Homo sapiens: one gene and its partner. The protein of the gene in region 2 purifies or fractionates together with the protein of the main gene of each other region. This does not show direct contact. Each region holds a gene or a part of one and is shown on either strand. Other genes may lie near its edges.

What was found.
Region 1: the proteins of SPATA1 (region 2) and TLK2 purify together in Homo sapiens (affinity purification with mass spectrometry; 2 studies listed by BioGRID and IntAct, with this or other methods). This does not show direct contact.

The regions. Positions count from the first base shown.
Region 1 is NC_000017.11:62,481,816-62,485,735, reverse strand, and holds part of TLK2 (serine/threonine-protein kinase tousled-like 2), read right to left. Parts: intron 1-3,920. UniProt on the Homo sapiens protein: Serine/threonine-protein kinase involved in the process of chromatin assembly and probably also DNA replication, transcription, repair, and chromosome segregation. Phosphorylates the chromatin assembly factors ASF1A and ASF1B.
Region 2 is NC_000001.11:84,558,192-84,562,111, forward strand, and holds part of SPATA1 (spermatogenesis-associated protein 1), read left to right. Parts: intron 1-3,920.

The DNA of each region.
Region 1 (3,920 bases), on a different chromosome or scaffold from region 2:
AAGGGGCAGCTAGACTAGAGAGCCTGCTATAGACTTTTGGGTGCACATTACTACTTTCCCCTCATCAGTTCATGACAGAAAACGTCAATCTTTTAAACAAAAACCAAATAGTGCATCCCAAAGCCCAAAATAAATGACTTTTGTTTTACCATTATTATGAAGTAAATATGCTGAGAAACTGAGTACCTACCTATAAACACACTATGCAAGAAAATTAAAAATTTGCACTATGCAAGAAAATTAGAAATAAAAAATTAAAAACCTAAATATAGGTAATGAGCAACTTAAATATAAGTAATAGATGTGGAGATTTGGCCATTTTGTTTTAGTCTAAGTAATGGAGTGTATATCTAATTTGCAGGTGGAAAAAACTCGAAAGTTATACAACAGAAGATTTACAACAACCAGAAAGTTCAAAGGCTGTAGCTACTTGTAACACTCTTGTCCACTAGGAAAGAATCCACAGTGGCACTGACTTTCTTCCTTCTATGGACATCAAAAAGTACTGAAAAATGTTATGAATAGTTAGGAGAAATTCAAGAGACAGCCCAAGAGGCTGAACCAGTCCCACTAGATGGCACCATCACAGGGAAGTCACTCTGCTCTCTTATTTGGAGCTGCAGGGGCTGAAATCTTTTTTGATCTTTGAAAAACAAAGCTGTCATCAACACAGTGATATTCTTTTTTTGTTTTGTTTTGTTTTTTGAGACGGAGCCTTGCTCTGTCGCCCAGGCTCACTGCAAGCCCCGCCTCCCGGGCTCAGCCATTCTCCTGCCTCAGCCTCCCAGGTAGCTGGGATTACAGGCACCCACCACCAAGCTCAGCTAATTTTTTGTATTTTTTAATAGAGATGGGGTTTCACCGTGTTAGCCAGGATGGTCTCGATCTCCTGACCTCGTGATCTGCCTGCTTTAGCCTCCCAAAGTGCTGGGATTACAGGCGTGAGCCACCGTGCCTGGCCCTAACACAGTGATATTCTTATTGGGAAATAATGATCCAAAATGAGAATTCAAAGCCAGGGAGAGGAGTTTTTCCAAAAGCACCCTTTTCTCCCAGTATCATCATCCCCTCCACACCCCCATTTCAAATCAATAGTCTGAGAGGTACGATGTCTTACTGGTAAAAGAAGTAATACAAAGGCTGGGCGCGATGGCTCACACCTATAATCCCAGCACTTCGGGAGGCTGAGGCGGGTGGATCACCTGAGGTCAGGATTTCGAGACCAGCCTGGCCAACACGGTGAAACTCCATCTCTACTAAAAATACAAAAAATTAGCCGGGTATGGTGGCACGTGCCTGTAATCCCAGCTACTCGGGAGGCTGAGGCACGAGAATTGCTTGAACCCAGGAAGCGGAGGTTGCAGTGAGCTGAGATCGCGCCACTGCACTCCAGCCTGGGCAACAAGAGTGAATCTCTGTCTCAAAAAAAAAAGAAGTCATACGAAATGGAGATTTTCTTTTCCCGGCTCTGCAAACTACAGAATTAATTTTTTTCTTCAAGTTTCTTTGTTATGGAAAAAAAAAATACTCTCCTGCTAGTCCTCAAATAACAAATTCATTGTAATCAATATACTTACCGTGACTGGAAATATCAAAGTAACATACGACTACTTAAGCTGGGCACAGTGGCTCACACCTATAATCCCAGCACTTTGGGAGGCCGAGGCAGGCACATCACAAGGTCGGGAGTTCGAGATCAGCCTGGCCAATATGGTGAAACCCCATCTACTAAAAATACAAAAATTAGCTGGGCATGGTAGCAGGTGCCTATAGTCCCAGCTACTCAGGAGGCTGAGGCAGGAGAATAGCTTGAACCCGGGAGGCAGAGATTGCAGTGCGCCGAGATTGTGCTACTGCACTCCAGCCTGGTTGACAGAGCAAAACTCTGTCTCAAAAAAAAAACAACTAATGGAATAAAAACAACTGGAAATAAAGCTGGGTGCAGTGGCTCATGCCTGTAATCCCAACACTCTGGGAGGCAGAGGCAGGTGGATCATTTGAGGTCAGGAGTTCAAGACCAACCTGTCCAACATGGTAAAACCCCATCTCTACTAAAAATACAAAAATTAACAGGGTGGTAGTGGCGCACGCCTGTAATCCCAGCTATCTATAGGCTGAGGCAGGAGAATTGCTTGAGACTGGGAGATGGAGGTTGAGGTGAGCCGAGATCGTGCCACTGCACTCCAGCCTAGGCTAGAGAGTGAGACCCTCTCAAAAACAAACAAAAAAACTGGAAATAGGTAAATTTCTTTTTCTGTACAGAGAACTTCTTTCTATGTTAAAGGTAGAATTTCCTATTAAACAGATAGGTTACTGTATTAAAGTTTTCTGATACCTTAGTTACATGACTTTAAGTTGGGTCTAGACAGCAACATGTTGAATGTCACTCATTCTTATCACTTATGCCCTACTCCATCAAAAGTATACTTGAATACAGCCATCACGAACCTAAAAACAGAACAACAACCCTAATCCAAAGATCAGTGAGCTTAACTATGTAAAATTTGAATACAAACTTACTGACTTACGGGAGGCGGGGGTGGGGGGACCATTTAAACAGACAGATCTGGACATTAGCCTTATGCTCAATCTTCAAGTTAAAAAGACACATCAGAGGTCATTTAGAGATCAATTTAGTATTCAAATATATTGCTCACTTCTATTTGAAGCTACTTCACCTAGATCAGAGAGTTTACATTTGTAAATGTAACTTCAGTATACAACGTCCAGGGGCACAGCCACTCTAAAGTGCCACAAAAGTAAACTGTTTAAGTGGCCAAAGAAATTAAGAATATGTAACAAATCCTGTGTTCCCACAGCACCTTGTCACAGCTCTAATACAGATCTCATCACGGTATCATCTCTCTCTCCCCATACTGCAGATGTGGAGGTACTGTGCTCAAGCATCAGCCCTAACACCTTGCACAATGCCTAGCATACAGCAGGTGCTCAATATTTGTTGAATAAACAAAAACTATCAAGCTGGTTGGGCGTGGTGGCTCATGCCTGTAATCCTAGCACTTTGGAACACCAAGACAGGCAGATCACTGGAGGTCAGGAGTTCGAGACCCAGCCTGGCCAACATGGAGAAACCCTGTCTCTACTAAAAATAAAAAAAATTAACCAGGCATGGTGGTGCATGCCTGTAATCCCAGCTACTCAGGATGCTGAGGCAAGAGAATCGCTTGAACCCAGGAGGCAGAGGTTGCAGTGAGCCCAGATTGTGCCACTGCACTCCAGCCTGGGTGACAGAGCAAGGCTCTGACTCAAAAAAAAAAAAAACAAAACCCTATCAAGCTATCCCGGCTCACCAAAACTGTGAGACCCATCAAAGAAGCCCATTTTTCCAACTAAACCTCAACACGCCTTCTCCTTGGAGAAGCTACTAACTAAAGCACGAGATCAACACCCAGGTTACCATGAGACAGGATTTCTTGAAAAGCACAGAAACAAATGTTGTATCACACTGGTTAAAGATCAAAAGCTCAGCCAGGCACAGTGGCTCCTGCCTGTGATCCCAGCACTTTGGGAGGCTGAGGCAGGTGGATCACCTGAGGTCAGGAGTTCGAGACCAGCCTGGCCAACATGGTGAAACCCCATCTCTACTAAAAATACAAAAATCAGCTGGGCGTGGTGGCGGGCACCTGTAATCCCAGCTACTCAGGAGGCTGAGGCAGGAGAATCATCACCTGAACCCAGGAGGTGGAGGCTGCAGTGAGCCGAGATCACGCCATTGCACTCCAGCCTCGGCGACAAGAGGAAAACTCTGTCTCAAAAAAAAAAATTCAGTAGCTCATACGTTCACACATCTCAAGCCCAAGTAATATGATCTTGGACCAATAAAGCTTTTAAATAAAATATCGTAAATATACTTTGCATACTGTATTAAAATCAAACATTTTACACATTGTAAAATCATC
Region 2 (3,920 bases):
CATATGTTAAATAACTTGATTTAGCCATTTCACAATGTATAGATATATCAAAACATCATCTTCTACACCATAAATACAGATAATTTTTGCCTGCCATTAAACTTTTTTTTTTTTTTGAGACGGAGTCTCGCTCTGTCGCCCAGGCTGGAGTGCAGTGGCGGGATCTCGGCTCACTGCAAGCTCCGCCTCCCGGGTTCACGCCATTCTCCTGCCTCAGCCTCCCAAGTAGCTGGGACTACAGGCGCCCGCCACTACGCCCGGCTAATTTTTTTTGTATTTTTAGTAGAGACGGGGTTTCACCGTTTTAGCCGGGATGGTCTCGATCTCCTGACCTCGTGATCCGCCCGCCTCAGCCTCCCAAAGTGCTGGGATTACAGGCGTGAGCCACCGCGCCCGGCCACTTTTTTTTAATTAAAAAAAAAAAAGAGGCCAAGTGCAGTGGCTCACACCTGTAATCCCAGCATTTTGGGAGGCCAAGGTGGGAGAATCACTTGAGGCCAGGAGTTCAAGACCAGCCTGGGCAATATAGAAAGACCCCGTCTCTACAAAAAGTAAAAAAATCAGCCTGGCATGATGGCACACGCCTATGGTCCTAGCTACTTGGTAGGCTGAGGCAGGAGGATTGCTTGAGCCCAAGAGGTCAAGGCTGCAGTGAGCCATGATTGTGCCACTGCACTCCATCCTGGGTGACAGAGCAAAACCTCGTCTAAAAAAAAAGAAGAATGTGTTCCTGCATTTTCACATTCATTAAGGAAAAAACAAGCCACAGATTACTAAGGTCAGGATTACAAAGAAACAGTATATGGTAGTATATACTGTCCTAAGATTCTATGTTACATATTTTTAAATTACAGGCATACCTCATTTTATTGTACTTTGCTTTATTGTGCTTTGCAGACATTAAATTTTTTGCAAATTGAAGGTTTATGGCAACTCTATTGAACAAGTCTACTGGTGCCATTTTTCCAACAGCAAGTGCTCATTTTGTGTCTGTGTCACATTTTGGCAATTCTTAAAATATTCCAAACTTTTTCATTATTATTATTATATCTGTTATGATGATCTGCAATCAGTGGTCTTTGATGCTACTATTGTAATTGTTTGTGGGCACCATGAACTGCCCATATAAGACTTAATAACAATATTTGGCTAGGCGCGGTAGCTCACGCCTGTAATGCCAACACTTTGGAAGGCCGAGATGGGAGGATCACTTGAAGTCAGGAGTTTCAAACCAGCCTGGCCAACATGGTGAAACCACATCTCTACTAAAAATACAAAAAATTAGCCGGGCATGGTAGGGCATCCCTATAACCCCAGATATTTGGGAGGCTAAGGCACGAGACTCACTTACACCTAGGAGGCAGAGGTTGCAGTGAACTGAGATTGTGCCACTGCACTCCAGCCTGGGTGACGGAGCGATACTCCATCTCAGAAAAAAAAGACTTAATAACGATATTGAAATTAGACTAATAACCTTACAATGGGAATTTTGCAATGAATAAAAAAGAGGAAGAAAATAGTTATAATTAGATTGTTTTCTGAAGTGACATTAAATGGCCTTCAAGGCTCACCAAAATGTTTCCTGAATTCTAAGAGCTTAAACAATGTGTTGGCCAGGTGCAGTGGCCCATGCGTGTAATCCCAGGCCTTTGGGAGGCCAAGGTAGGCGGATCACTTGAGGTCAGGAGTTTGAGACCAGACTGGCCTACATAGTGAAACCCCATCTCTACTAAAAATATAAAAATTAGCCCGGCATAGTGGCGGGCACCTGTAATCCCACCTATGGGGGAAGCTGAGGAGTAGAATTGCTTGAACCCAGGAGGCAGAGGGTGCAGTGAACCCAGAGGGCGCCACTGCACTACAGCCTGGGCGACAGAGCAAGACTCTGTCTCAAAAAAAAAAAAAAAAAGAAAGAAAGAAAGAAAGAAAGAAAGAAAGAAAGGAAAGAAAGAAAGAAAGAGAAACTAGAATCCCTCTTCCCTAAAATGGGTCATAGAAACTAGAGCCTCTTTTCCCCAAAACCAGCCATAAAGTCTAAAAATGTTACTCTAACCTTTCCCACCACCACCTTTCTGTGTAATAGCTGGCCATAAAGAAATTAAGACCCTCATTCCAGAGAGGTCCTACCCCATACCCATGAGAAGAAATCCTTCACAGAGAGGCCAAGAAAAATCTGAACAGACAGTCCTTGCTGAGTTTTCCCACTCAGTCTGTTTGCATTAGCTCATGCCCTTTATTCTGATCACAGTTCTACATAGCTGTCCATACTTCGTTGAACCTAAGCACAAAAATGGACAGTTTTTCCTGTATCTTTGGGTTTTCATTCTGAAACCTCCCATGTCGGGTAAAATTATGATCAAACACATTTTAAAAGGCAGAGACCCCTTTCTTCAAATAAATCTTATATTGGAAGAAGATGATGCCATTTAAGACTTTGCTAGCTAGACAGGAGAAGTCAATACCTGGCTTTAAAGCTCAAAGTACAGGCTGATTCTCTTGTTAGGGACTAATGAGGGTGGTAACTTTAAGTTGAAGCCAGTGTTCATTTACCATTCCAAAAATCCTATGGCACTTAAGAATTATGCTAAATTGACTCTGCCTGTGATCTATAAATGGAATAACAAAGCCTGGCTCACAGCACATCTGTTTACTGAATATCTTAAGCCCACTGCTGAGATGTACTAAGAAAAAAAAGAGATTTCTTTCAAAATATTACTGCTCATTGACAATGCACTTGGTCACCCAAGAGCTCTGATGGAGAACACAAGATGAATGTTATTTTCATGCCTGCTAACACAACATCCATTCTGCAGCCCATGGAACAAGGAGTAATTTCAACTTTTAACTCTTATTAATTAAGAAATAGATTTTGTAAGGCTGTAGCAGCCAAAGACAGTAACTCCTTTCATGGATCTGGCCAAAGTAAACTGAAAGCTTTTTGGAAAGGATTCACCATTCTAGATGCCATTAAGAACATTCATGATTCATGCATGGGAGGAGGTCAAAATATCAACATTAACAGGAGTTTGGAAGAAGTGGGTTACAACCCTCATGGATGACATTGAGGGGTTCAAGACTTCAGTGAAGGAAGTAACTGCAGAGGTAGTGGAAACAGCAAGAGAATTAGAATTGGAGGTGAATCCTAAATATGTGACTCAATTGCTACAATCTCGTGATAAAATTTGAATAGATGAGGAGCTACTTCTTATGAATACGCAAAGAAAGTAGTTTCTTGAGAATGGAATCTATTCCTGGTAAAATGCTGTGAACATTGTTCAAATAACAGCAAAGGATTTAGAATATTCTATAAACTTATTAATAAAGCAGCAGCAGAGTTTGATGGGGTTGACTCCAATTTTGAAAGAAGTTCTACTGTGGGTAAAATGCAATCAAATAGCATCACGTTTTACACAGAAATCTTTCGTGAAAGGAAGAGTCAATTGACGTGGCAAACTTCACTGTTGTCTTATTTTAAGAAATTGCCATAGCCACCCCAACCTTCAGCAACCACCACCCTGATCAGTCAGCAGCCATCAATGACAAGGCAAGACACTCTTCCAGCAAGCAGGTTATAACTTGATAAAGGCTCAGATGATCGTTATCATTTTTTTAGCAATAAAGTATTTTTAAATTAAGGTATGTACTTTTTTTAGACATAATGCTATTACACACTTAACAGACTACAGTATAGTATAAACATAACTTTTATATGCACAGGGAAACAAAAAATTCATGTCACTTGCTTTATTGCTATATTTACTTTATTGTGGTGGTCTAGAACTGACTCTGCAATATCTCTAAGGTATGCCTGTATATGTAATTGGTTACCATAACTTTTAACAAACCATATCCATGAAACAGTTTCTAAGAACTGCATGTTTCTAAGAATGCTGTGAAACAAGATTATATGTCAAACAATT